Linked DNA regions of Homo sapiens: region 2 is linked to region 1. Evidence: fine-mapped expression QTL. A gene starts in region 1. The other region holds a variant in brackets. All regions are shown on one strand. Distances are from middle to middle.

Region 1 (15,930 bases):
TTTACAGTTTATACAATTCAAGTTAAATATATGAATTCTCTGTGCCCTTTTTGGAGCTTTTGTTTTTGGTATTTCTCTCACATTGAAATTTCTCCCTAACTGGAATATAACAATTTTTTTCTGGTATTCTCCGAGGCTATTGTTTCTACTCTTTATCAATCAAGTTCTTAATGCAAAACCCTACAAATGGTCAATAGGTATATGAAAAAATGCTCAATATCTCTAACCAGCAGGGAAATGCAAATTAAATCTACAATGAGAGAACCTCTCAAATCTGTTAGGATCACTATTATTAAAAATAGAAAGTGACAGATGTTGAAGAAAATATGGTGAAAGGGGAAACCTTGCACACTGTTGGGGGGAAGATAAATTGGTACACCCATTATGAAAAACAATAAGGGTGCTCCTCAAAATTTCAAAATTGAACTATCATATGATCCAGCAATCTCATTTCTGGGTGTATATCCATAAAAAATTAAATCAGCATTTCCAAGAAGTATCTGCACTCCTATGTTCATTTGTAGCATTATTTACAATAGCCAAGTTATGTAATCAACCAAAAGACCAACAACAAATGAATGAATAAAGAAAATGTGGGCCAGGCGCCATGGCTCATGCCTGTAATTCCAGCACTTTGGGAGGCCAAGGTAGGTGGATCACCTGAGGTCAGGAGTTTGAGACCAGCCTGGCCAACATGGCAAAACCCCGTCTCTACTAAAAATAAAAAAATTAGCCTGGTGTGGTGGCACGCGCCTGTAGTCCCAGCTACTCGGGAGGCTGAGGCAGGAGAATCACTTGAACCCGGGAGGCAAAGGTTGCAGTGAACCAAAACTGCACCACTGCACTCCAGCCTGGGTGACAGAGTGAGACTCCCTCTGAAATACATACATACATACATACATACATACATACATACATACAAAGAAAGAAAATGTAATATACATGCACAATGAAATGCTCTTCAGTCTTAAAAAAGCAAAAGAAGGAAATCCTGTCATTTGCAATAACATACATGGATCTGGGGACATTACACTAAATGAAATAAGGCAGGAACAGAAATAGAAATACTGTATGATCTCACTGATATGTGGAATCTGAAAAGTCAAACTCATAGAAGCGGAGTAGAATGGTGGTTACCTGGGGCTATAGGTGGGAAACTGGGGAGATGTTGGTCAAAGAATACAATATTTCAGTTACACAAAAGAATAAGTTCAAGAAATCTATTGTACAACATGGTGAATATAGTAAATAACAGTGTATTGTAATCTTGAAAATCATTAAGAGAGATCTTAAGTGTTGACACCACAAAAACTGTTAAGTATGTAATGTAGTGTATATGTTAATTAGTTGAATTTAATCATTTATAAGGCATACATGTTTCAAAACATCATGCTTCACATAATAAATATATATAATTTTTTCGATTAAAAATGATCACTTAAAAATCAATCAAACAAACAAATGAGACCCCAGTAAAGGCCCTAGGATGTTTTCTCCAGATAATTTGTAACCGTCTATGCTCCAGTCTCTCTCTCTCTCTCTCTCACATTCCACACATCTCACATTACTAAGGTTTGTATATTTATTTCCACTGGAGCATATCTATGTTCATCATGCTGATTTGCACAATAGAAAAAAGCTATAATAACTTATTTGATAGATATATCTGCCATATTATATCATATTCATGTATAATTATATAAAATGCATGTGAAGGGAATATTATTCCCAAAGTGTTAACTAACACTTGTTTTGGTTTCTGAATATTATTTTAATTTTATTTGGAAAATTAATTTACTCTTTTGTTTTCCAAAATTAAAACCTTTCTTAGGACATGATATGAAAAACTAACATTGCTGCTGATATAGTCTTTTTCACAAATTGTTAACCGTTTAGCATTTCTATCTGTAACTAGGAGAAGATAATTAAAAGTTGGACAAGCTTCTGCTGACAGCAACTTTCTAACTTCCTTCTCTTAGATGTGACATATCAATATGCAATAATATACTTATAAATGATAAAAATAATTTTAGAGAAACCATCCCAAATTGGAAGGGAGACAACTGTTCGTCAAAATGGAAATACATATTCTTTAGCATTTCACATACGTAAAGAAAATACAGTTCCAGTTTTCATTAATTTAAATTATTCTTTGATAGTTTATGAAAATAAAGGTTAGTGTCTGGACAAGCCTAGAGACATAACACTGAATGTTTCTAAAAAAAACCTGTACTCTAGTTGAGAAATAAAAGAGGGACAAACATAATGATTCTGTATGGCGTAACATAATGTCCTATTAGAGGCACTAACTGCCATATTTAAGGGGAAATGTGAGATCATTTCAAAGCTGTAGGATGTGAAATTTGTGATGGATTTGGAATGGTGGATAATGTATTAATAGAAAACAAAATACGAAGTGGACACGGGCAGAGGAAATAATAAAAATAACAAATAAATAGCAAAAGTGTATCAGATTAGAAAGCAGGAGCATGTTTAGGAATGAATTTTATGTTTGCATTCTAGGAAGAAGAGTGGTTTGACTTTGGATCGTGGGAGGGTGTACCAATTTATAATTCATTTTGAATGCAAGTAAAATGTCTTTCATTATTATGGAGATAAATATACAGTCATGCATCATTTTATTACTGGTTAGGCAATTTTGTCATTGTGTGAACTCCTTAGAGCGTGCTTACACAAACTTAGATGGTACAACCTACTACACACTTAGGCAAGATAGTAAAACCTATTGCTCCTAGGCTATAATCCTGTACAGCATATTACTGTACTGAACACTGTAGGTAATTGTAACACAATAATATCTGTGTATCTAAACATATAAAAATACAGTAAAAGATGCTATAAAGGATTAAAAATAGTACACCTATATATACACCTATATAATAAAAGTCTACTTTAATCTTAGGGGACCACAATTTATATTCAGTCTGATATCCACTGAAACATTGTTTTGCAGCATGTGACTGTAATACAAACAGAGGTGTAATTTTTGAAAATATAATGAACCAATGTTCACAAACTGAGTGCTACTAGATGTGGGAAAAATAATAAAAACTACAATAATGCAGGGAAGAGACAATCACTTTAAGAAATATGATGAGTAGGGTATAGATAGAAGCTTATATTAAGGGAAAAAAGAAGATTCAATTATAGTTCAGATAATGCCATCATGAGGGAATGACATAGAAACATTTGAAACTCCTTGACTGGGAAAATAGTAACATTACCTACTAAGTAGAATTGTACCTCTTTTTCTAGAATAGTGAATAAAGTACTAAAACTAAGAATAATAAATTTTAAGTAGCTTCACCTTCTAAAGATAGAAGAGGAGGAAGTATAAGACTCATCCCTGCAGGACTTACTAAGAGCAATAACAATCACTATCACAAAATACAGGTTGAGCATCCCAAATCCAAACATTCATAGTGCTCCAAATCTAAATTTTTTTTTTTTTTTTTTGAGACGGAGTCTTGGTCTGTTGCCCAGGCTGGAGTGCAGTGGCATGATCTCAGCTCACTGTAAGTTCTGCCTCCCAACTTCACGCCACTCTCCTGCCTCAGCCTCCCAAGTAGCTGGGACTACAGGGGCCTGCCACCATGCCTGGCTAATTTTTTTGTATTTTTAGTAGAGACGGGGTTTCACCGTGTTAGCTAGGATGGTCTCGATCTCCTGACATCGTGATCCACCTGCCTCGGCCTCCCAAAGTGCTGGGATTACAGGCGTGAGCCACCGCGCCTGGCCAAATCTAAACCTTTTTGAACACAAATGTCACAATCAAAGAAATGCGCACTGGAGAATTTTGGATTTTGGAAATTTGGAATAAGGATAATCAGTAAGTATAATGAAAGTATTTCAAAACAAAAACATCTGAAATTCAAAACACTGCTGACCGTAAGAATTTCATATACAGGATATTCAACTTGTAGCATATTTCTCATTTCTCTCATTTTCATATATATAAATATAGCATATATAATATATACATCTATATCTATATACTTATATCAATGTCTATTTATGTTTATATACTGCAAATATATAGAGATATATATGACACATCATATCTATATAGATATATGTATCATATGTAACATATCTATCTACATTTATATTAACATCTAAAATAGATATATAGATATAGGTTTATATATAGATAAATATAGAAAGAGATTAATATAAATAAATGTACACAATGTGTATTAAAGAGAAAGAAAAATGTCAGAAATAAAATGGAGAGAATTGTTAGTATGCCAAGAAAAGAATGTGTTCCTTCCCCTGTCTTTTCTACCATGTGGTGGCTTTGACCATCCATAAAAACCAAGTGAACTGTTTTCATGGTAATCACACCTAGGATGAATGCTGAATGTCAGCATAACCAGTTTATTTCTTTTTGATAAGATTTTTTTAAAAAGGGAATGGGGTTGGCAAGCATTACAGCATTGCAACAGAGAGTTGAAGTAGGGGAGAAACATGTACTGTCAGTATTTGGGGCAAAGCTGTGAGTCCTCCATGAGCCTTGAGTATACTTGAGTTTGTGCCACGTTGCTACAAAAGTTGATTGCTAGAGAGAGGTATTCAGCAACACGAAGCAATAGGACTGGACAACCTACCAGGGCAGCTGAGAGGCAGTTTGGAAAAGCTGTCCCAGAAGGCATCTCTCCAGTCAGGGAACTAGAAAGTATGGAAGCTTCTTTAGGATTCCTGTAGAACCCACTCATAGGAAAGATGTAAGTGACCCAATGGAAAAAGGAGGCATCTACACATTTAGCCTGTAGTTCATCCTGGAGGCCAAAACTCAAGTGGAGAAGGGGAAACCAAAAGATAATGGCAAATTGTTAGAAAAAGATTCACAACACACACACACACACACACACCTGTTTTTGTTGAGGTTCTCCAGAGGGACAGAACCAATAGAAAATATGTATATACAAAAGATGGTTTATTAGGGAGAATTGTCTCACATGATTACAAGGCAAAGTCTCACAGTAGGCCATCTGCAAGCTGAGGAAACAGAAAAGCCAGTAGTAGTGTCTCAGACCAAGTCTGAAAGCCTAAAAACTAGGGAAACTGACATTTCAGCCTTCAGTCTGCGGTGGAAGACCAGGGAGCCCTGGGGAAACCACTGGTGCTTCCCAGAGTCCAAAGGCCGAAGAACCTGGAGTCTGATGTCCAAGGTCAAGAGAAGCAGAAGCAAACATCAGGCACAGAAAGAAGAAAGAGACAGCCAGAAGACTTAGTGAAGCAAAGTGATCCCACCTCTCTCCACCTGCTTGTTCTAGCAGGGCTGGCAGATGATTGGATGCTGTCCACCCACATTGAAGTTGGGTCTTCCTCTCCCAGTCCACCAATTCAAATGTCAGTCTCCTTTGGCAACATCCTCATAAACACACCCAGAAACAATGCATTACCAGCCTTCTGGATCTCTACAATCCAATCAAGTCAACACCTAATATTATTCTTCACAAAACCCATGTGTCAAGCACATACACACACATCAGCACAAACAAACAAGGGACACTATCTAAAGTTCAACTGAGAGGGGAAAACTGAGCGTAAGTAAATGCTTCTTTTTGGCAACAAATGGAATTAGAATGTACAGGTTATCATTATGTCTCAACATTTTAAAATCTGTTCAAATTGTTAAGAGCTGGTTTATGGAGGTTGTGATGAAGGGAGATGAAACAAGACCACTTCTTCATCTTTTCTAAATGCAGACAAAACCAGCTCGCTGTGCAAACCGCAATAGTCAAGCTAGTAAGTCCACTAATGAGACTGCTGCTCATTTACCCATTACAGCTTTAGTTTATCTTTATTTCACAATGGTAATGTTGTTAGAAACCCCATCATTGCTCTTTGTAAACTTACTAGTTAACTGGTTGTGTCTCCATAGACAGTGAGAAAAAGTCTGGGTTGTATGTTATATTTCTACATCTGTCTTTGGGGTACAATTCAGTGAGAGAGCCACTGTTTTCACAATCTGGCTCCAACCACTCATGTCACCCCATCTCCATGTCTCCCCAGCCTCCTAGTTAAACTAGTGAACTCTAAATACCTCACTCATAATAATTACCCTTCACAAAGTTGGTCAGTCAAATAATGTTTGGGATAAAAAAAGTGGGTATTGTGGTAGGAGAAAAACAAGAAGCCCAAAGATTGCATGTGACAGATTGAAAAAAAATCAGTCTCTCACTTGAAAATAGTCATTTTTTTTCTGAGAATTGTTTATTGTTCAATTGCTTGGAATGTATGAAGAAATACTCCAATAATCTACTCAATGATAGAGTAAATATTAAAGTAAATATCTATATACAATTGCAAAAAAAAGCAAAACCAAATTGTGATTAGACTAGTCACATTATACCTGCACACCACAATCAAATAAAATAGGTTAGTTTTAAATCAGATACACACAGTACAAGCAACTCAGTTTTCCTAATGTTATGAACATTGGATTTCAGCAACATAGTTTGTTCTAATATTACAAAGCTGAATACTTTGATTAGTAATTTGTAAAACAAAATATGTTAATTTTTTACCTCTTGAACATATAGTTACAGAAACATGACTCATTTCTAATTTCAATTCAATATTATAATGTATCCTCTGCCAAAGATTTCCCATTTGTTTCTCAGTGGTGTAAGGTGTTCATTTTAATTTAGAAGTTGTTGAGGGCCTAATTATTTTTCTCCTTCTCTTTCTTTTATAAAGCAAAAAATATCCTCTAAATATCCTAGGCAACATAGCAAGACCTCGTCTCTACAAAAAAAAAAAAAAAAATTAGCGAGGCATGGGCACATACTGCTAGCCCCAGCTACTCAGGAGGCTGAGGTGTAAGAATTGCTTGAGCCAGGGAGGTCAAGGCTGCAGTGAACTGTGATCAGCACTGCACTCCAGCTTAGGTGATAGAGTGATACGCTGTCTCTCAAAAAAAAAAAAAAAGAAAGAAACTTTTCAAAATATGAGTTTAAAATGTCGGTATTTTAACATGTATGAAGTATAAATAGTGGCAATATGTTGGGACATTTCAAATAAACTCAGTAATATCACTTTCATATTTTAATACATGCATTCTAAATATAATCTTGTCATATAATTGTTTGCACTTATATAAATAGCATAATAAATCACGTTAGGAAACTGGAATCAAATGAAAACAAAACAAAACCTTCCAATTTTATTAGTTAGCAATAATTAATCAAAAAAAGAATAGACTCTTTAAAAGTATACCCTTATCCGTATCAAATAAAAACTACCACCTCCAAATGATTGAAGATTTTTACGGACATTAATTATAATGTATTGAAATAGTTCAGTAGTTTAAGTTGACCAGATTTATTGCACAGTTTCCACAATGGTTTAAAATTTTGCAAAGGATTAAATGCCAAAATATAAAGCCACAAAATTAGTAACATTAGTTTTATGTCACACTTACTCCAGAAGAAAATGGTCTGGTCTTAGTTCCGGTCCGGCAGAGATCGCGGAGAGACGCAGAACGCAGCCCGCGCCTTCAGGGCCCTCTGGCCCCGGGCCGGCGGATGAACTGGGGGGCCTCGGGACAGGCCGAGCCCTCTGCCCTGCAGACACCGGAGGCCTCTGCTGTGGCTGCCCACTGGCTGTGCTCAGACCTTGAAGCCGCAGCGAACCTCTCTTTCCCACCCCACCTCGGTGACTGATGGCGGCCGTGGCGTCTCCCAGCCCGGCCCCCGCCGGCACCCGGGTCTCCCGACCCAAGCCTGCTGGGCCTCGACGAAACCCCCGCAGAGCCGCCAGGACGCAGCGCCTTTGGGCGGCGCCGGGCGTGGTGGGCCGGGAAGTATGGCGGCCGCTCGAACGCCGCGCGGCGGAGGCCATTAAGGCGTGGACGGCCCGGAAGGCGGCCTAGGGACGCAAGCAGGCTTGGCCGCCTCTTTCGGCCACGGAGCCGCGCAGATCCGGTTCCCGGGTGACCACTCTGTCGCCATTGGGCGAGACCTACCTAGTCCTGACGACAACGGACAAAGGCCTTAAGGGGCCTGAAAGGTGAGCGAAGTCCCGAACAACGACGGGTGGAACGGTTAGCGGCCATCGGGCGGTTGGTCTTCATTCTACCAGACTTTGCTGTCGGAAGAGAGAAATGGTAGAATGACAGGCCACGTTTGGCCAGTTGGAAATGCCCACCACCCTCTGGGAAGATTTACTGGCCGTTTATGGAAGGCCTGTGTATATAATATGAAAAAGCTGCTCTCAACTCCACCCCAACCTTTTAATAGAAAACATTTGTCACATCTAGCCCTTCTAGATGGAAAGAGGTTGTCGAGTTATGATAAAAGAGTTAGAAAGTTACACATCTTGTAAATTCTCATTTGTTTAAAAGAAATCGTAGAAAATACATGTCTTCTGGAGATGACTTTTGGAAATGGAATTGTTAAGACGGCCTCTGGAAGCGATACGTTCACGTTTGTTAAGTGGGTTAGATGACATGGAGCTGGAAGACCTGAGAAGGAAGAGAAGAAGGTTCTATGCTAGACTGGTCATATTTAGAAGACATTTTCATATTCTATCCATTGTTTTGTGTGCATTTTATTCCTCACTACTGTGTATATAGTTGACAATGCTAAGCTTTTTTGAAATGTCTCTTCTTTTTAGATGTTCTGAAGTGCCTGATATGTTAAAATTAGAGGTAGCAAAATCACATTTTGTAAATACCTTTTTGTTACAATTCATAGGAAATATTTTTTGGGGGGAATGGTCAAATCACCTGTTGAGTAATACTCATTGTGTTTGTGCAGTGGTTCAGGGGAGGAGAGAGGAGGGGGAGGTGCAGAGAGCTCTATGCCATCCTGTTTACAGCGAGGCAAGATGTATGTCTGTGCATTTTGTTTTACTTATCTGTGTATATAATGTACATAAAGGACAGACGAGTCCTAATTGACAACATCTAGTCTTTCTGGATGTTAAAGAGGTTGCCAGTGTATGACAAAAGTAGAGTTAGTAAACTAATATATTTTGTACATTTTGTTTTACAAGTCCTAGGAAAGATTGTCTTCTGAAAATTTGATGTCTTCTGGGTTGATGGCGATGGGAAGGGTTCTAGGCCAGAATGTTCACATTTGGAAGACTCTTTCAAATTATAACTGTTGTTACATGTTTGCAGTTTATTCAAGACTGCTGTATACATAGTAGACAAATTAACTCCTTACTTGAAACATCTAGTCTATCTAGATGTTTAGAAGTGCCCGATGTATGTTAAATGTATAGGTAGTAAAATACCACTTTGTAAATATCTTTTTGCTAAAATTCATAGGAAATGCTTTTGGAAATTGAATTGTGAAGCCACCTTTGTGAGCAGTATAGTAATGTGTATACTTGTTCAATGGTTTAGAGGAGGTAGGAGGGAAGAAATTGCAAGAGGTAATATACTAGTGTGTTCATACTTGGACATTTTCAGACACCATTTTTCTATACGTTTTGTGCATTTTGTTTTGCTCTGTATATAGTATATATAATGGACAAATAGTCCTAATTTTTCAACATCTAGTCTCTAGTTGTTAAAGAGGTTGCCAGTGTATGACAAAGTAGTAAAATTAGCATATTTTGTACGCTTTGTGTTAAAATTCATAGGAAAACTTGTCTTCTGTAAAGACTTTTGCATAGGAATTTGTTCGACCATCTCTAAGCATTACATGTGCCTGTACTTGTCCACTGGATTGAAGGCAGAGAAGGAAGGGAGGAGGGAATGATTCAAGGCCAAAATGGCCACATTTAGAAGATACCTCAGATGATAACCATTGTTATGTGTGTGCAATTTTATTTAACAGTGATGTGTATGTGGTGGACAAGTTATATGAAATATCTAGTCTTTCTAGATATTTGGAAGTGCTTGATGTATTTAAAAGTGGTAGTAGAATAACACTTTGTAAGTAGCTTTTAAAAACTGATGGGAAATGCTGTTTGGAAGTGGAATTGTTGAACCACCTGGGAGGTGGGAGGGAAGAAATTGCAAATGGTGTTTTGCCATTGCAATTATTAGAAAATTTCAGCTTAAAAAAAAATGGTCTGGTCTCAAGGATAGTTGTTTGCAACTTAGCTCTTTTATAATAATGTAAAAAAAGATTTGTCTGTCTTTATTTTCAAAAGCTGACTTTATATAGATTCTAGCTTCTGACCTAAATCATTTCCTTGATATAATAAACTTTTACATGAAATAATACTTTCATTCAGTCGATTAAAATAATTTTCCTGCCAGCTAGTAGAGTGCAACATGTGTAAAAATCTTACAGTTAAATGGGATCAAATCAGACAGTATAGATTTCCTAGACCATAAAATCTATAAAAATCAGAAGCAATGGATTTAACTCCCAAATTGTTCATTTAAAGATCTAATTATTTGTGTTTGACATTAAAATAAATCTTAAACATAAGAAAGCACTTTTTTTTAGGAACAGTGTTATACTTGTTATAGTACTAAATGTAGTAATCTTCTACTGGTAGTTGGATTACTCTTTTACTCACTACATATCGATATTTAAATCACGTGCTTAATTGGTCCTATTTAGCCTTGTTTCATCTTATTAGTTACAAGGTGATATTTATCAAATGACCTAAACCATTATTCAAATTTATTTAAAAAAAACAATTGAGATGTTATAGTTTTACTACTGTAAAGTATATTAAAAGAGACATTTTCTATGTGATCTATTTGGAAATTATTTTGTTGGAAAAATCATCATGTAAGTTCCAGATAAAGAGACATTTTACTCTTCAAATTGTAAGAGTAATAACAGACAGCAACATTCTAAATTACTCTTCTATACACATTTCCTATTTGACAATTCTACAGCCATTAAATTAACTAATCATCTTCCTAGGGTGGGAATTTCATGCTTCAAATATGGGTTGATTAAAGATTAGTGTTCCTGGTGGTTGGTCACCTGATTCATCATTAGATTTGAAGAGCTGTGGCTCCTACGATAAATAAACACTGCAAAGCATTCTGAATATTTTAAATGCATGGTTTGTTTTCCTGAGCTCCCTGTGTTTGAGATTGCTCTGGATGCTTATGTGTTTTTTTCCCCTTTGCATCATCCTCATATACTTTACCTAGCACAGTTGGAAAAAATATAATCAAAACTATTTTGACTAAATTTTAATTTAAAATTAGACTTTAGAGGCATTTTTTACTTTTACTTTTGAAAGTAAATATATCTTAAAATTGTGTTTACAAGTTGGATAATCAAATATATTGCACTTTCAGGTATAAAGAAATTACTTTTCTTGAAATTAACTTGAGAAATCTTCTACATCCCCTCTTTTCTTATTAACTATTACAAAACAAAAACAAAACTTACGTAATCTTTGAAAGTCATACACTAAGGCCTTTAGGAAAGAATGTACCAAGCATAACTATTTTTTCTATTGCCATCTTTTATATAGTTATATAATTTTATAATTTTCTTAAGAAATCAGATGACAATTGAATACATTTGGGGTGTATGACTTGCCATTTTAATATATGTATAAGTTGTGAAGTGATTAGCATAATCTAATAAACACATCCATCGCCTCACATAATTACCTTTTTGTATGTGCCATGAGAACACTTCAGATCTGCTCTTAGCAAATTACAAACATGCAATATGTTATTATTAACTGTAATCGCCAGGCTGACAGTAGGTCTCCAGTAGTTATTTAGGTTGTAGCTGAAGATTTGTACCCTTTGTCCAATGTCTCCGCTTTCCCCCAAGCCCTCCATTTCCATGGTAAATGCCATTCTATTCTTCATTATTATGAGTCCAATTTCTTTTTTAAGATTCCACACATAAGTGAGATTATGCGCTATTTATCTTTCTGTGTCTGGCTCACTTCACTTGGCATAATCCCCTCGAATTTCAGCCGTGTTCTTGCAAATGGTGGGGTTTTCTTCTTTTTTATGGCTCAATAATGTTTCATGGTGGAAGTATACCAATGTTTTCTTTGTCAACTCATCTGTTGATAGATATTTACATTGTTTCTACAGCTTGGCTAATTGAATAATGCTCCCAGGGGAATTCACGTGTCTCTGCAAGATTGTGGTTTTATTTCCTTTGCATACACAGCTAGAAGTAAGATTACGGCATCAAACAGAAAATCTATTTTTAACCTTTTGAGGAATATCCATACTGTTTTCCATAATGGCGGTACCAATCTACAGTCTGCCTGTAAAAGACTTCCCTTTTCTTTCCATTCTCAGCAACATTTATCTTTTAGGTTTTGATTAGCCATTCTAGCAGGTGCAAGGTAGTATTTCATTTTGGTGTTAGTTCGCATTTCCCTGGTGATTAGTGAAGTTGAACATCATTTCATATACCTGATGGACATTTGTATGTCTTTGGGACAACGTCTATTAAGACTTTTTGCCCCTGTTTAATTTTAGATATTAAATTACTTGCTGGACATATGATTTACAAATATTTTTCCCATTCCCATTTCATAGGTTGTCTATTCATTTTGTCGATTGTTGTCTCTTATATGCAAAATGTTTTTTAGTTTGATGTAGTCCACTTGTTTAATTTTTGCTTTTATTGGCTGTGTTTTTGAGGTCAAATCTAAAATATTATTGCTGAGGCCAATGTAAAGGAGATTATCCCCTACATTTTCATCTAGCAGTATTATGTTTTCAGGTTTTATATTTAAGTCTTTAATCCATTTTAAATTAATTTTCAAGTATAGTGTAAGAGAAGCATTCAATTTCATTTTTTTTGAATGTGGATATCCAGTTTTGCCAACCTACTTATTGGACAGTCTATCATTTCCCCATTGTGTATTCCTGATTCATTTGTAAAAATTAATTATTAACCATATGTGTGTGGGTTTATTTCTGGGGTCTCCATTTTGTTCCATTTTTCTATGTGAACTTTATAGCGATACACACTAACATTAAAAAAGAGAAACATCTCAAGTATATAACCTAACATTACATCTCAAGAAACTAGAGAAAGAAGAATAAACAAAGCCCAATGTTAGTAGAAGAAAAAAAATAACAAAGATCAGAGCAGGAATAAAAAATGTAGAGTCTAGAAAAACCTAAGAAATGGAGACTAGATGGTAAATGGAATAGAGACTAGAAAAACAATAGAAAAAAATCAAATCAATAAAGAAATCGTTATTTAAAAATATAAAAAAGATTTGACAAAAGTTTAGCTAGGCTAATAAAAAAAGAGAAGTCTCAAATGAATAAAATCAGAAAATAAAGAGGAAACACTATGCCTGAATCCACATGTATTAGTCCATTTTTATGCTGCTGATAAGACTGGGAAGAAAAAGAGGTTTAATGGACTTACAGTTCCACATGGCTGTGAGGCCTCACAATCATGGTGGAAGGCAAGGAGGAGCAAGTCAGATCTAACATGGATGGCTGCAGGCAAAAAGAGAGAGATAACTTGTTCAGGGAAACTTCTCTTTATAAAACCATCAGATCTTGTGAGAGACTTACTATCTTGAGAACAGCATGGGGAAGACTTGCCTGCATGATTCAATTACCTCCCACTGGGTCCCTCACACAATACGCAGGAATTAAAGATGAGATTTGGGTGGGGACACAGCCAAACCATATCACCACAGAAATGCAGAAAATAAGAGACTACTATAAACAATTACATGTCATCAAATTGGATAACTTAAAAGAATTGAATAAGTTCCTAGAAGCATACAACCTGAATAATGAAGAAAATCTGAACAGACCAACAACAAGTAGGGAGAGTGAATCAGTAACAAAAATCCTACATCTAAGCAAAGCCTAGGACCTAATAGTTTCATGGTTAAATTCTATCAAACCTTTAAAGAAGAAAGAATGCAAATCCTTCTCAAACTCTTTAAAAGAATTTAAGAAGAGGAAATTTTTCCATACTCATTTATAAGTTCTGCATTCCCCTGATACCAAAGCCTAAGACATTAGAAGAAAATAAAATTGGAGACCAATTCCCCTGATAAACATAGGTGTAAAAATTCTCAACAAAATACTAGCAATCTGAATTTACCAGCACATTAAAAGGGTCATATCATGATTAAGTGGCATTTAATGCTGGAATGCAAAAATGGTTCAACCTATGCAAATCTATAAATGTAATCTACCTCATTGACAGAACCATATGGTCATCTAAACAGATGCAGAAAAGGCATTTGACAAAACTCAAAACACTTTTAGGATAAAGAAACCCTCAACCATAAATCATATAATGAATGTACCTCATCAAAATAAAAGCTACATATGACAAAACCTCAGGACTGTTCACAATACCCAAGATGTAGAAACAACTTAAATACCTTACCTTATATAAAATGGTAAGAAATGTGGTATATACACACATATGACAGAATATTATTCACCTTTCAGAAGAAGGAGATTTTGTAATATGGAACAACATGGATGAACCTTGAGGATGTTATGAAAAAATGTGAAATAAGCCAATCACAGAAGGACAAATACTATACAATTCCACTTATATAAATAAGTATCCAAAGTAGTCAAATTCATAGAATCAGAGAGTGGGATGTTGGTTGCCAGGGACTGGGTGGATGAAGAAATGGGGAGCTACTAATCAAAGGCATAAACTTTCAGTTAAATAAGATGAATGAATTCTAGAGAGCTGCCCTACAACACTGTACCTGTAGTCAACAGTACAGTATTGTAGACTTTAAAAATTGTTAAGTGGGTAGACCTCATGGTAAGTGTTCTTGACACAACAAAATAAAATTTAAAGAAAAGAAATGGTACCATGTTACCATTATTTGAAAATGGAGTCAGATATAAGAAAAAAAAAAAACCTCATCATTTTTTTATTTTTTTTGAAAAATATATTGGTATCATTAGATACCAAGAATGATATCTAATATCATTTTTGATATTAGACTTTGATATCATAAAAAATCATTAAAAAATCATAAAAAATGATTTTTATCATTTAAAAAAAAAATCTATTGGTATCATTCACCTGTGTTTCTAAAGACAAATACACATTATTTTATTGGAATCCTCTAAGGTATTTTATTTTCATTTTAATTTCCTGTATAGACTTTCATTAATATGCTCATTTTTTCCAACACTTCAATATATATGTCTTTAATCATTTTCAAAGTACTATTTACTTACTTCTAAATTGCCAGCTGATCTAAGATGGCATTAGATGCTACAATATTACTATACTTCTTGAACTTAACTTTTTCCAAAATTAGATAACTTGAAAATGTCAGCATCCCAGCAAGAAACAGGTGGCATATTGAAAAAGGGGATAGTTGAAGACAGTATAATGAAAGCATTCTATACTAGACATGAGAAGTTTTAAAAAAATAGAATTAAGACTAATAGAAAGGAAAATTTTATTACCCTTAAGACTGAAGGGTAAATGTAGAATGAAGTTGTCCACATTATGCTAGGGCAGAAGCTACAGCAAACAGTAAAAAATAGTCACTATGGCATAAGATTTACCAAGCAGGCACTAGCAAACCATGGCCTACCAAGGAGAGGAACCAGGGTAGCATGTACCCTACTTTTCTCTACTCCTATCTCGCCTTGGCTTAGAAAAGCCACAACGAGAGGTCAAGGCACCTCGGTGGAAGCAGTGCCTAGAAGTCAACCTTCTGAATGTCAACATCAAGGAGGTTTGAAAGTGCATCGATAGTGAAAATAATGTACAAACAATCAAACAAATAAATAGTAATAGCTATATGAATCACTCAGAATAAAAGATATAGGCACTTTGGGAGGCCGAGGCAGGTGGGTCACGAGGTCAGGAGATCGAGACCATCCTGGCTAACGCAGTGAAACTCCATCTCTACTAAAAATACAAAAAATTAGCCGGGTGTGGTGGCGGGCACCTGTAGTCCCAGCTACTCGGGAGGCTGAGGCAGGAGAATGGTGTGAACCTGGGAGGCAGAGCTTGCAGTGAGCCAAGATTG
Region 2 (15,930 bases), 32 kb after region 1:
TTTACATTCTGCACAATCAGGCCAGTTCAATCTATCTATCTATCACAAAAGCCTTTTATCAATATCACTCAGAGAATGTCTTAAGCATTGAGATCTAACAGATTATATTTTCTCACACTTCATCAATTGCTCAAAATAGCTTAATGCTGTTTCCCACTTCCCTATCCATGATTTCTTCTCTTTGCCCCTTTTTCTAATCGTTAAATAATCATTAAGATGCCTAAGAGCATCCAAACTGTAAAAAATTCTACTGATTCTTCCATATGAATCTGCTTTTTATGCTTGCTATGCAGCCATCATTTTATGATTCTTGTTGAACTCTTGTGTTGAACTTAGACACCCTTTTGTCCTGAGGACCAGTTCTTTGTGTAACTAGAAATAAGAAGTATATATGATTAATTTTTCCTAAAATAATATTAATTTTGCATTAACACAATTGCTAATCAAAACGATTAACATGATTATTAACATGATATTAATACAATTAAAATGATTCTTATTCAGTAAGCTTATATTTTGTTATCAAATTTATAATACCAACAAGCACCAAATTCCCTAAAGGATTAAAAAACGATCTCTGGTGATCTGAAATATCCCAGTTACATATGTGGGTATTCTGTTTTATTCCTATTTTTTAAAATCATGGGTTTATCCTGTTCGTGCTTTTGTGAACTTAGTATATGTACAATCTTATTTTGGCCCTGTATTTGAACATTCCTTTGAGATCTCCCCATCTTGGTATTTTTACTCTAGTTAAATGCATTTTCTCCAGTTTTCCTTCTAGTCCTTCTTTTCCTTTTTAATAATATCTCTGAATTTATTTTAAAATATGTTTTAATAAGAAAATCATGGATGCTACTGAAAATTCAGTAACTTCATAAAAAAAAAAAGTGATACCAGGAGGGCACAGTGGCTCACGCCTGTAATCTCAGCACTTTGGAGGCCAAGGAGAGTGGATCACCTGAGGTCAGGAGTTTGAGACCAGCCTGGCCAGCATGGCAAAACCCCATCTCTACTAAAAATACAAAAATTAGTTGGGTATGGTGGCATGCGCTTGTAGTCCCAGCTACTAGGGAGGCCGAGGCAGGAGAATCACTTGAACCCACGAGGCGGAGATTGCAGTGAGCAGAGATCGCACCAGTGCACTGCAGCCTGGCTGACAGAGCCAGGCTCTGTCTCAAAAAAAAAATAAATAAATAAATAAAAAATAAATAAAGATACCGTGTTTCTATATAGGAAGTTTTAATATTAAAAAGATAGAAATTCCCTCTGAGTTAACTGATGAGTTATTCAGTTCTAGTAAGTATTTTCACTTTGATTTTAAGGGCTGAGGAAGCTAATTATAAATTTTATTCAGAAGGATTGTTTAAAAGAGTAGTTAGGAAATTCAGAAAAGCAATGTGGGGAAGCAAACCATACCAAGCTTTTAAATATAATATAAAGTCTGTGTAGTTAAAGTAGTTTAGTATCAACATCAGAACTGACAGGCATACCAATGAAATAAGATAGAAAACCCAGAATTAGCCAAATTATATTTGGAAATTCAGTGTACACTAACAAGGCATCTCAAATCAGTGAGGAAAAGATAATTGATGTTTTGATAACTAGGTGGTTCTAGAAGGAAAAACTGGATCCATGTCTCATCTCTACATCAGCATATATTGTAAGCAGATAAATAAATGTATAAAATTTCGGTTATGAAGTTTCTATAAAAATTAGTAAATAATGAGTGAATTCTTAGAAATGCACAAGTAGTAAAATTTAATAAGTATTCAAAATTCAGCACAGTAATGGAAAATATAAATTTGATTATAATAAACATTTCATCTCAAAAACATCATAGATAAGAATGACAAATGACAAACTGAAAAATAAAATTGCAACTTCTTTGAAACAAAATGACTGTTAAATTTATAAAGGGCTTCTAAAATTAATCAGGAAAAAATCAACAATGTATCATAATAAAAGAGCAAATAGTATGAATATTGAATGCCAGAAAAAGAAATGTCAGTGGCTGTTACACATATGATAATATGTTCAACTTCAATAATAATAAGAGAAAAGCAAATAAAACTTCATTTAAATATCATTCATTATCTCTCAAGCTTTTACAAATCTAAAGTTCGAAGCTGTAGATCACAAGGACATTTATATATCACTATGGAAATGCAAACTGGCATATCACTCTTTAGGGGAGATTTGGCAATGTTCATCAAAATTGTACATTCCTTTATCCTTTGAACCAGCAAACTTATTTCAGAATACTGGGAATCTATTCAAATTTAAATTGACAAAAAATAGAAAATGACTTATGAACATTGATTTCAGCATTATTTAAAATAGCAAAAGACCAGAAACAACCTAAATGCTGTTTAGGTTGACTGGTTGGATGAATTATGTTGCTTAGGAAACTGAGTAAACAATGAAAAATCAAGAAGTATGCTGTACTGCTGGAAAATGGAATAAACTCCATAATTTACTAAGTAGTTAACTCCAAAATATATTGTTCAATGATGAATGCAATATAGATAAAAGTATATATAGTGTATATTGAGAAAAGGAAATAAATCTTGGGGCCCCAAGATCACTAAGCTAAAGGGAAAAGTCAAGCTGGAAACTGCTTAAGGCAAATCTGCCTCCCATTCTATTCAAAGTCACCCCTCTGCTCACAGAGATGAATGCATATCTGTTTGCCTCATTTAGAGAGGCTAATCAGAAACTCAAAAGAACGCAACCATTTGTCTCTTATCTACCTGTGACATGGAAGCTCCCTCTCAGCTTCCAGTTTTCCCGCCTTTGCCTCAAGTTGTTCCACCTTTCCAGACTGAACCAATGTACATCTTACACATATTAATTGATGTCTCATGTCTCCCTAAAATGTGTAAAACCAAGCTGTGCTCTGGTCACCTTGGGCACATGGCATCAGGACCTTCTGAGGTTGTGTCATGGGCGCATGTCTGGGACATTGGCGAAATAAACTTTCTAAATTAACCGAGACCTGTCTCAGATTTTGGGGGTTCACATTTTGGTAACCCCAGAGGAATTCTGAGTGGAGATGCCCCAGACCTTTGACAAATCTCCTATCAGTGCTTGGTACCAGTGTAACGCCTAAGGTTCTTGCCAAGCCATGCCAAAGAATTGATGTGGCAGCTGTCTGCGGCGAGTGATAGAGACACGGAATGATAGAAAAAAGCTGTAGGCTTTATTAGGCAGAGTGAAAGTACAAAGCTTCCACAGCGTGGAAGGGGTCCTGAATGGGTAGCCAGTGTTGGTTTTGGGTGATTGCCTTTTAAACTCTTCAAGGAGGGAAATATGTGCAGCAGGAAGATGTTACCAGAGTGAGAAACAAAGGCAGTAAATTATTTTGTGACATGTCTAAGATTTTGAGGAAAACCAGAATTGCAACTTAGGTTTTATCTACTTTATGACGTTGTAGCAGCATGGCAAAGGAGACAGGATCTTACAGGACTTTACAAAGTATGTTTACAAGGAATTGGAATGGGGAGTATAGATAAGGTCTGCTGGTCACAGAAAAAGGGGAAGTTAACATTTCTTTTCCTTTAGTTTTAGGGGATGGGGAAGGGAGAGAGAACACAGGGAAACTTATAGCAAGCTTTTAGCTGTTTATAGCTTTCTTGAGGAAGAAAACACATGCACAAGTCCTGGTGTTAGGAATATTTTAAGCATATATCTTCAATATTATTCATCCAGGACTGAAGTAAGTCCTGATGCAGGAAATGAGTAAGTTTCACAGCTTTCTGAGCCCCTACTCGACCCAGGAAGCCCAGCTGGTACCTCCTCTCACTGGTATGGCTCAAACCAGTGGGAGAATTTGCAGAGGTCTGTGAGCATCCCCTCCAGAGAATCTCTGATCTCCAAAAATTTGGTCAAGATCTAAAGTTTATTTTGCTGTACACCTCCCTTCTTTTTTGGAGTTTTACTTGCTCCCAACAAGGAAGGAGAGACTTCCTGTATCCATCACAATGAAAGGCAGGTAACTTCTTTATGGAGTTTGAGCTCCCTTTCAGCAGGGAAGATGAGTTTGAGATCTCTCTTTTTTTTTTTCCCTGCTTCTAGAATGGTAGAAAGCAGTCTTCAGCCTGAGACCCATCCCTAGGTAAGTACCTGAATTGGGGTTTTGTCTTGGCTAAAGTTTAATAACCAGCTGGTCTTAATTTCTACTTACCATTAGAGCACCCAGTGATCATATTGTGGGGTTTTTATTGTTGTTGTTTGTTCTGGATTTTCACCCATCAGATTTGACCAATTTTACCTGACTTGGTCAAATCTGTGTGAGAATTCCAAGTTCTGGGTAACAAAGCCTCTCTAATTTGGACAAAATTCCTCGCAACTGCAAAGGAGGAAAAACATGCACTTAGTTTACGAGTTTTCGTCTTGTTTTTTTAAAAAACAAAAGTTCTTTCATTTACTTTTCTTCCACCCTGTACCTCCTGCCCCCTTTGCCATCTGTAGTACCAAAAAATCTAAAGGAGTCATATAATGACTTGAACCACTTTAAAGAATTCACCTGTTTTGGGGTATTCTGTTTTCTTGGTGGAGTTTCAAGAGTCATGGGCAGCTTCTTCTTAGGTCTAAAGCTCTGTTTTCCTGTATTGCATGACTTGGCCTCTTTGGCTTTGGGGATCACAGAGATTACCTTGTACTGTGAGAGGATTTGACCTTGGCATGTGTAATGGCAGATGAGAGCTACAAAGTAGGGGTGGCTGAGCAGGAGTTTAAATAAAGTGGTCTTGGCTGTTGTCTTTTTCTCTCTCCCAGGAAGTTGTTGTCTAAGGATTCTAATTCTAGTCTGGAGATACATTCTAAGGAGACTTCTCTAACGCTTTTTCTCCCAAATTACTCTCAATTCGGCTTGTCTATGTGCATTGGTGTGAGGAGCTGAACTGCTGTTTTCAAAGCTAAATGAGAGATTGAGTTTTCTCAGCTCCAAAGAGAAAGGGCATTTGTTCCTCCCACCAAAAGGCACCCCTGGGTGACTGGGGGCCTCGTGGGAGTCTCTGGGGTTTTGAACCCCCACAGCGTGCAGCAGCCCCGCAGGGAAATCCCCAACAAAAATTAATTCAAAATAACAATAACAAAACCCCCCACTTGTCCAGGAAATGCATATAAGGGCTGATCACCTGCCATTTTGAGTCTTCTCTGAGGTCACAGACCTCTGGAGAGAGAAACTGAGACACATAAGAGTGTGGAAATGACTCAGTGTTGATACACTGTGGAGTCCTGCCCACAAGCAGCACACATTGATCCACCACACAAAAACGCTAGGCCACAGCTCAGTTCCTCCTTTTAAGAAAAAGAGTGGAAAACAATCTAAGAATGAGGAGAAAACAAGGAGAATGACCCCCTTTCAAGCACTCCATAGGTTTTATGGCACTTCCACTTGCCAGGGTTTATGTAAAATGAAAGTAATATGGTCTTTGAGTACACTTACATTAAAGTAAAAGAGCCCTGAGGTCGACCTGCAAACTACAGACTTCCTAAGTTCTCTTTTTCTCTATTTTTCTTTTCTGCCTGCTTTAAATCTGCTGTTTTCTATTAAGATAAAAACCACTATTTGGATTCAAAAGGTTATTCTTGCAAGCCAGTGAATTTGTATTTATCTCATGGCTAAAGTTATGGAGTAAAAGATTTAGGATCTGTGTGTGTGTGTGTGTGTGTGTGTGTGTGTGTGTGTGTATGTGTTCATAATTTCTGTAATTTTATGTTCAATTGGCAATTAAACCCATTTTAATTTCCCTCTAGCATATCAGAATTTTTCTCACTGTATCTTATGATGTAAATTTTGCTCTTGGATTTTCACCTGAGTTATTTTCTTTAATATGCAAATTTAAGGCTATTTAGCTAACAACTACCTATGGTAGTAAAACAGGTTATCAAGACTGAAAGTTTAACAAAAAAAAGTTTATCATGAATCTATAAGATGTATTTCTATCAGCATGCCTAATACATTTATGTATTTATGTGTTGTTTACACAACATTTCACTACTGGAAAAAAGGAACTCTAATTAATTGGCTTAAGAAAATAAAAGCACTTGAATCAAATACTTTATCAGGAAAAGGGAAAAGACTACTCAACTGCTTTTTCAAGTTAACATAACTTAAGCAAAATCTTTAATAAATAATCTAGATTTAAAATTATTGGTTAAGTAATGTTAGAAATCTCTTAAAAATTGCCAGCAGACATTGTTGTTTACATTTAATCAAGCAATTTAATACTTATTCTTGCCAAATAATATAATGTGTCAAAATTTGGCATAGGGTTTGCAAAAGTATAATCCCAGCCCAAAGCAGAATGATCTTTGCTTGTGTAATCTTTAATAAATAAGACATTGATTTATTAACAATAACATTGGTTTTATAACAATAGCTACATCTTGAATTTAGTAAGATTACCATAACTTCTAATCTTGTGGCTTTAGGCAATCTAGTCCACAGGCTGTAAGGTTTGTTTTGAGAAGGAACTGTTAGTGTCTTTGTTTCAAAGCTAAAGTATAAATTAATTTCCTCCCAAAGTTAGATCAGCCTAGGCCCAGGAATGAACAAGAACAGCCTTGAGGTTAGAAGCAAGATGGAGTCAGTTAGGTCATATCTTTTTCACTGTCTCAGTTAAAATTTCACAATGGCAGTTCTATAACTTTAAATAATGAGTATCACAGTTTTCACAAATTATGTAGGTAAATGATTAAAATAAAATAATTAGGTAAACGTAACAGGATAAATACATGTAGAAAATGTCATAATTTAGAATCTAAAGTTGTATTAAATTTAATAATAGGTATTTCATTATATGGATATTTTCCAATAAAATAATACCCTATATACTATAAAAATATATTATATATTATAAATATCCAAATTATTTTATATATTATAAAAATATATCTATAAATATATATTTAGAAAACATTATTTCTAAAAAACATGTCTTTTTTTAAAAGATGAACCATTTTTTTCTATTTCAAAGCTTATTTAAAGCTAGGTAAAAACTAGGTAAAAGAAACCAGAAAATAAGAGAGATGTAAAGAAAATTATAAAAATAGTGATTTTTTTGGTAAGAAAGGTTAAAGAGAAATAATTTTATATGAGAAACAATATTATATGGTAGATTTATTCCTAGAATAAAATGGTTGTTTAAACAAGAGGTTATGTTCAGGACAAATAAAAATTTCAAGCATGTCATGAAGGGTCTTTATAAGTCATAAGTCACAATAAGAGGATTTATTAAAAAAAAAAGAAACCAACAGTGAAATTTTCTTAAGGAATTGATTTACTCTTAATAAATCATAGGAGATTTTAATTTTTTTTACCCAAGTTTAACTTTTATTGCATCTTGCCACTTTCAGGTTTTTCTCCCCTTTTAAAAGGCGCAAAATGATAATGTTCTCCTTCAACTCATTTTCAGCTCGTATAAGTCTTTTTTCCTCAATTTCTGTTTGTTGTGGTCTGATGCTAACAATGCTTTCTTAAATGCCCAAAGGAAATGTTTTCTTCAACATAATATTCTGTTCAGTGCACATGGTTTTTATTTCTGCCTTTCAGTAACTGGCCTAAAAGATATTTCATTTTATCAAAAGCAATTCCTATGCCATTATAAAGTTTTGGTTTGCTTAGGAAAAAAAACTTTGATAAAATTTTTATCTTTAATTAAGGTTATTAAATCTGTGTGTCTTTCTACATGTGCTTTTAAAGTTTTTGTGACATTGAGTTACAGGGCTTTGACTCCTGGGTCTAAAAAGGACTCCAAGTCCTGCTAAACTGTAAATACTGAGAGCAGTTAAAGCCTCATCTTCAGACCCAGTAGAAGATGCCTATCAAAATAAACTGCATTCTTGAGACGCAGGGCCAAAAATAAAGCAATTCAACAACTCAAGATCCAGGGACTCTCACAGAAAAAGTGGGCATGTGAGATTTTAAGGGCTGATCTTGAGATTAAAATAAGTTCAGTTTCTGTATAAAGTAGTCATTAATGTCAAAGGACACTGATGCAAGACGAGCATATGGACTCTTATCTCAAATTAACAAGGTTTTCTTCAAACTGTAACTATTAGCCCTTTGTCAGATGGATAGATTGCAAAAATTTTCTTCCATTCTGTAGGTTGCCTGTTCATGCTGATGATAGTGTCTTTTGCTGTGCAGAAGCTCTTTAGTTTAATTAGATCCCATTTGTCAATTTTTGCTTTTGTTGCCATTGCTTCTGGTGTTTTAGTCATGAAGTCTTTGCCCATGTTTATGTCCCGAATGGTATTGCCTAGGTTTTCTTCTAGGGTTTTTATGGTTTTAGGTATTACATTTAAGTCTTTAATCCATCTTGAGTTACTTTTTGTATAAGGTGTAAGGAAGGGATCCAGTTTCAGTTTTCTGCATATGGCTAGCCAATTTTCCCAACACCGTTTATTCTACTATAATGGCACATGCACACGTATATTTATTGTGGCACTGTTCACAATAGCAAAGACTTGGAACCAATCCAAATGCCCATCAATGATAGACTGGATAAAGAAAATGTGGCACATATACACCATGGAATACTATGCAGCCATAGAAAGGATGAGTCAATGTGCTTTGCAAGGAAACCATCATTCTCAGCAAATTAACACAATAACAGAAAACCAAACATCACATATTCTCACTCGTAAGTGTGAGCTGAACAATGAGAAGACATGGACACAGGGAGGGGAACATCACACACCAGGGCCCGTTGGGGGGGTGTGGTTCTGGGGGAGGGATAGCATTAGGAGAAATACCTGATGTAGATGACGGGTTGATGGGTACAGGAAACCACCATGGCACATGTATACCTATGTAACAAACCTGCTTGTTCTCCACATGTACCTCAGAACTTAAAGTATAACTAAAAAAAACCAAAACACTGACTTTTTAATAAAGATTATAAAGGTTATAAAAGGTTTATGGAGGTTATACCCTATGGTCGAGATTAAAATCTTACAGATTGTTTATAAAATTTCAAAAAACAAATTTAATTGGCTTCATGCTGTTTTTATTAGGTTTCATTATTTAGAAAATTAAGTCTACTCTCTCAAAGAAAGAAAGTTTTTG[C/T]CTTTTTGAAAAAATCCTTGAGTTATTTATTTGGTCAAATGAATAACTTATTTTACAATGACCTGTGACGTCAAGTGTTTTAAATCTTTGATATTTGACAGACTTTCCAAAATTAAATAAAAAATTCTGTCTTTTACTAATGTAATTAATCCTTTAAGATATTTGTGAAATAAATTGAAACCCTTTTAGTGTTTGGCCATTATGTACAATTCTAGCTTTGGTATTAAATAATATAGCTTATTTGTTCAATAAAATTTGCATGAAAGCTGCTACATGTTAGTTACTCTTCTTGGTTTAGAAAAGATTTTCAGTATACAACACAGATATCTTAGTTTATATTTCTTTAAAAGCAGAACCTGAGACAAGAACTTAGTTGCAGATAATTTAGTAAATACTCTGAAGGAGGAGTGACAGAGAAGAGCATTAGATAAGTAAGAATGAAAAACTGATATAAGGCTATGTAATCCAGGTCACTGGTTGTAGGCAATGAGAGCATAATTCTGCTAGGAATCCAAAGGCGGAGGCTGGAGTTTTTATCCACTGACTTCCATCTTTCATTATTTGAGGGTTACCTTTGGGGTCATTAACTTTACTATATTTATAGACTGTATTTATGCAGACTATTCTCAGCTTTGGGAAAGGTCCTGAGTACAAAAAGCAGGGAAACATTTGTTTTGGTCTTTAGATAATAACAGGAGTTTGAGTTCCCCAGTAGCTATCCACTTCCATTGTGGCTGAAATTGAAAAGGGCCAATGTGATGTAATATTGAGTATCAAGTGTGAGGGCTCTCGGAGGTTGATTACGCTATTACACAGTAAATTCATTTGATTATGCTATTACACAGTAAATTCTTCTCTGTCACATATTTTGAAACTGGTGGCTAGATCTAAGCTCTGAAAATATCAAAATGTTAAAGAAATAAACCACAGTATCTGCTGTTATAAGTGGCCCAAAGGCAGAAATTGATATCCTGTTCATCTCCTTTTCTTTACTGTGTTTCCATCTCTTCCACGAACTTGGCCACTGTAGCAGCTATTCTAGATTTTCCCTCTTGTGAAATAAACCAAGCATGTTTGCTTAGTCCTAGTCTATTTTTGATGCAATAATTGCTTATTCAATCTCACTGCCAGGGACACATCAGTCGATCCCCTGAGATCTAGAGATAATGACCTGCCTTGATTCTATAGAATTATAATTAGAGAAAATTGTTCATCTTAGTATTTCAAAATAATGATGCATAATTTTGTCTTCCAATGTAGTAATTCATTCATCTTATTCAGGTCTACTGGCATAAGAAAACTAATACAAAAATTGGTCATTCCTACTTTTACTTTTTTGGTTTCTCAAACTAACTACCCTTGTATACAGTATATTTTGCATCCTAGAGACTGGCACCCACTGCAGTGTACCTTCCCTGAGCTGACATCCCTGCTGAAACTTTAGTATACCATTTCATTATCTTATTAGGCTGGGTGTTGCTGATAAATATAATATATGGTTGGAACTGAAGACCCCCATCATTCTATGCTTATTGTTTTACCTCTTCTACCATAAAAATGCATTACTTGGCCTCAAGTGATATTATGCAGGACATTACATAATTAACTTATGCTTTCAGTAATTAGGCTTTCTGTAGGCCCCCAAATCATAGTATTAGCCAAGGCATTGTGAACAAAAAATATAAATACATTTTAAAATAAGAGTTTGTTCAGCAAAGATGAATTATGACCCACTTCTAGAATTGAAAATGTCCAGTAACTGACTTATTCTAAGTGGTTGCTTGCTCTAATGTAATGAATGGAACGTTATCAAAGGCTTAATCCCAGTCTCTACTGCTTACAGGTTGGGCACATAGCTTCAGTTGTCCAGTGGACAATGTTATGCATGATCTCAGGCAAGCATTGAAGCAAAAGAAAACCAAAGATGTGCATAATTTATTTCTATTTTTCTAGGTCCATCCACATGTCCCTTCTTTGTACATCTGATCTTTCTGTCTTACTCCATCCAGGTCTATGTGCAATCAGGTCAGCCATTCACCTATATCCAAGCATTTAAACACATTGTAATTCCAATAGATTTTCTACCACATAAATGGAAATCCAAATGTGATGCTCATAGCTTGGCCCACGAGGAGGATTACCCTTTCACCAAAGTCCTTTAAGGCTAATTCTCATTATGATTGTGTGTGCTAATGGTCCATTTATCATCTAGCACTATTATATTCAATTAATCCATCCACAAACCAGGTACAAAACTTTTCCTTCTTCATTAGTTGATCAAAATGAATTCTCCATGAGGTCATGGTGTGATCAGAGGAAGGGATTACAAAGAAACAATGGCTGGTGACATGAGGGTCTAGATCATGAGTGCCTCTGGATATACTTTGAGAAGATCCAAAATGCATTATTTTATTATGGGATAGACTGATTCTTGGTGCATGATGGAAGCCTTTGTCTCATAATCTCTTGATATTCTAAGATCCAGCACTCAGTCTCTTCTAAGGTCTTGTAGCACATCAGAAGCAGCATTTCAAATAGCAAGGCATTATCTGCTGCAGAGAACATGGCCTTGATAATGAACCCCAGTGGTTTCTGCTGCAACTCTTCTACAGGGGGTTTCTCACAGGGTCTTGGCCACCATGTGTACCTCTAGCACCATACTATATCCTAAGGGGAAGGGCCATTTTCACTGTAACCTAAACCTGCTGCAAAGCCCTCTTCTTCCAAATGACCCACTTAAAAAATATTTTCTTCCAAGTAATCTAATATAGAAGTTATTATTTTGTTTTGTTTTGCTTTTTTTGTTTTTTTGTTTTGTTTTTTTTGACAGAGTCTTGCTCTGTCGCCCAGGCTGGAGTGCAGTGGCACAATCTCGGCTCACTGCAAGCTCCGCCTCCCGGGTTCACGCCAGTCTCCTGCCTCAACCTCTCAAGTAGCTGGGACTACAGGCAGCTGCCACCACACCCGTCTAATTTTTTGTATTTTTTAGTAGAGACGGGATTTCACCATGTTAGCCAGGATGGTCTCGATCTCCTGACCTCGTGATTCTCCCGCCTTGGCCTCCCAAAGTGCTGGGATTACAGGCGTGAGCCACCACGCCTGGCCCTAATATAAAAGTTTAAGCAACATTCCCAAAAGCTACAGATGCTGTTTCCAACAGCTAAATATATTTACAAAATCTTGTATCTATTTCCTAGTAGTAGGTTATGCAAAGTGTATAATATAAACTTTACCTTAGAATGGATGCCCCAGAATGCCAGAGACTGTTGGACCCTGAAGTTTTGCTCTCATCTATGTTATTGTTGTAGCTTGCTAAGACATTCAGGGCACTTGCCACTTTCTATTCACTAGGTTCAGTTAGCACAATGCCATCAATTTATTGGATTATCATAGCATTTCCCAGAATGGAAAGTTGATCAAGTCCTTTGTGGACTATACTCTGTTGGAGTGCAGAGGAATTGACATATACCTAAGACCTAGGAGAAGATGTGTGTTTGCACACTTTTCCTGTGCTCCTGCTAATACTGTCTTTCCACATACACATAAAATGTTTTTAAAAATCTACTAAGATCAAGAAGGACAAAAGAACATATTTTCCAGACTATTGCCACATATAAAGTACTAAAATTGATCTGTTCCAATAAAAATCCCAAATCTAGTATAAGAGTAAATTAGATTCACCCTTGGTTAAGTTTACAGCAGTCCACTGTCATCTACCAGCTCTTTATTTTTTTGCAGCGACCCTTACAGTTAAATTAAACAGGGGAATAAAGAGAATAACTACCACCACCAATTCTTTAATTGTTTGAAGGTAGTATGAATCTCTGTAATTTAATTCTGATATTAAATATTGTTTCTGATTTATTGCCCTGGCTAGGAAAGTGTTGGGGAAGCTTCAAGGATTTATATTTGATCATACTTAACGTGCAATACATAATGAATCCTATGATTACATATTACTACAGAAATCAGGTAACCAATGTGCAGGTTCTTTGAGTAACTAAGTCTATCCATCTCAACTGTGCACTCAGCATCTGGGGAGATAACTGTGGACTGGAATCTGATTTCAATCATGTGTCTGTTAAGTACTTGTTCTTCATGAGCACTCAATCTAATTGAAGAGGGAATTTTGGTATGCTTGTATCAATATAACCTCAGACTTCAAGTCCAACAGCTCTTAAAAGTTCTGGATAGTGTTCTTTTCTTTGTATACATTCACTATGGTACATGGCTGTAGGTTCTTAATATTTGTTATTGATACTTATACTGTCATTGTAGAGTCCTTCCTCAAGTTTGTTATGACTCCACTTCAACAGATGGGCTCTGGTTCTGAGAACCAGCTCAGACTGGGTAGGTGGGTGAGAAATTGTGGGTTTTCATCACAGTAGCTAATGCCAGTCTTCTGCTTGCTAGTTCAGGATTTATTCTAATTGCAAAACCAGAAACACCCTGATTGCCTATCCATTTCACCCCTAGGAAAATCACAGTCTGTTATATATCATAAGAGACTCTCACATAAAAGACATCCTGCTTGTCCCTCTGGCATTGCTGCTAAATTCAGTTACCATACCCACATTATTTCTAATGAATAGATGTCACCACCTAATCTGAGATATTTGAGAATAATATTGTCTCATTAGCATTTGGCAGACTAGTTTCATGGCACCTTTTCCTACTAACAACTCTGGCCAAATCATGACAACAGTCACTGAGACGTTGGATGTCCTAATCGATAGTGCATGCTAATAGCCTTTGTGAAATGAGGACAGCATCTCCAACTCATCTACTAAAAGCCATCTCAGCAGCAACATTTAAAAAATTCCTCTCCTGGTGTTCTTGTCTGAACCTTAAGTTTGGATTCACAGGAAAATGATTATCTCAGCCACAACTCCCACTTCTGGTCAAAAATTCTCAAAATTCGCTCCCACACACTTTCCCTCTTCTGCTAATATGTGTTTGCCAGGACTTACAAATCTTCAGGGAGTAATCTGACTCTAGTGATTGGTCTGGAAGTCTTAAGAGAGATAGGAACAGGGTAAGAGGAGGACAAGCATCATCTTCAGGAACTTCTGCCCAGATTAGCATTTCTAATGTCTCCAGACAATGAGTGGCTACTGTTCTCCTATAAGAAGAGGATTTTGTTTGTTTGCTTTTGTTGATCTGGATGTTTTAGGAGAACTTTAGAATTAGGGGGTTTTTGTGACCCCTTCAGAACATCCCCATTAGATGTCTAAGGGAACTACTCCTGCCTAGGAGGCCCCTGATTTTAACATAGGAGTCACGTTGAGCTTGGCATACACTTCCTTTGGCAACTCTGCAGGCCTTAAAATTAAGTTGTGTGTCTGGTTTTTAATAATCTGCCTTGTGATTGTAAAAGACGAGGGACTCTGTAAACTGTCATGGAGGGATTCTGGATTTCACTGGCAACTTTGAGATAATAGTTGGCTGACATGAATCTGCCACTTGCTTTTTTCAAGGCTTTTAAGGTAAGTTGACAAAAATTATCTAATTCTACAATATTTATAATTCCCATTGCTCTAAAATTGTTAAACTGTTAGAGTTTCTGGACAACCCAAAACTTTTCTTCCATATGTGATTCGATGGACTAAAATTTAAAGTCTTTGTAATGTTGAAATAATAGCATAACAGAAGAGGCGTCACTACTCACTTATTAACAATAATAGGAACCTGTTGTCATCTAGCCAGTAAGGTCCAGTTCCAGAATTCCATAATGATGGTCTCTTTCCTAAAACTAGTTTATTGCCACTTATTTTAGCTTGGGTTCCCGACAGTAATTTATGAGACAATGACTTGGGTGCATATCTCAGTCCCACATCACCTATTTGTTTGAATTTGGAAGGTGATCCATATAGGAATGAGGAAATAGAAAGACTGAGAAAAGGCATAATACAAAGCTAATATTAGGTTGTATCTTGGGGATTTTTTTTTTTTTTGGCTTTGGAAAGAATAGCTCAATTCTTGTAAAACTATGGAAGCATAAAGAATGACCTTAAAAATTGCCCATCCTTAGGACAAGTCCTGGACCTACATCCACTGGCTCCTATCCTCTGTTAGTTGAGGATTTCCCTGGAAAACTTAACTTTCTTATGCTTCAGTGTTGATCAAGTAGGCTCCCTAGACTTTGGAAAAGACTGTGAGATTAAAAAAAAAAAAAAAGCAAGAAATTGATGGTAAGAAGTAGAAGTAAAGTAGTGTCAAAATGATTGAGCTCACAGGAAGTTGTGCAATGTAGCTGGGGCTGATCCCAGGGCAGTCTTAGAGATGTGAGGAGATACAAAAAGTAACATTTTTGCATGGCAGTTGCAATCCAGAGAGCAATTAATTATAAGTCCATCTCTCGTTTACTAAAAGTATGTAATTTTTGTTTGAGTATTTTAGTCTTAGTTTGAATTTGATCAACATACTTTATCAAAAATATATGTACAACTAATAAGACAACTATACATTTTTCTTTTAAATGAATGCTATGGTGCATTATATCACCACAATTACTAATGACAATATGTCATAATCAAAGTGAAGACAACCTGAGAATTATGTACTAGTGTTGAGTCTATAAGAGTGTCATTGTGAAAATATTTTAAAATGATTTCTTCATTAATATAATTTTGTAACACTTATCAGCACTTTCTTGGTTTTTGTTTTATTTGTTGTTGTTTGTTTGTTTTTGTCACACTTTTAGTAACAGAACCATGGCTTTGGAAAAGGTAATGCAAAAATATCTTATTGCCTGAAATGGTAGGTGGTAAAAGTGAATATAATAAAACTCCTCAGGATATTTTCAGTGTCTTTAATCAATATACATAGCTTTCTTATTGCCTTTCAGTATA

The links. PIP is the estimated chance that this variant, and not a neighbour inherited with it, causes the effect.
Region 2: its variant is the best candidate, but not a certain one, in a credible set for the expression of LINC02211 in testis (GTEx, PIP 0.69).

What each region holds. Positions count from the first base shown.
Region 1 is chr5:25,182,554-25,198,483 of GRCh38, reverse strand. It overlaps LINC02211 (long intergenic non-protein coding RNA 2211), which reads right to left and starts at 7,531. Exons shown (of 4, transcript NR_136209.1): 1 at 7,451-7,531. It overlaps LINC02228 (long intergenic non-protein coding RNA 2228), which reads left to right and starts at 7,828. Exons shown (of 5, transcript NR_147006.1): 1 at 7,828-8,037. RefSeq lists an enhancer at 7,325-7,824.
Region 2 is chr5:25,150,417-25,166,346 of GRCh38, reverse strand. LINC02228 (long intergenic non-protein coding RNA 2228) reads left to right here. Exons shown (of 5, transcript NR_147006.1): 3 at 4,078-4,117. Among named protein-coding and RNA genes, the nearest start is that of LINC02228, 32 kb to the left of the region's middle. The variant C/T (reference allele first, on the strand shown) is at 9,080.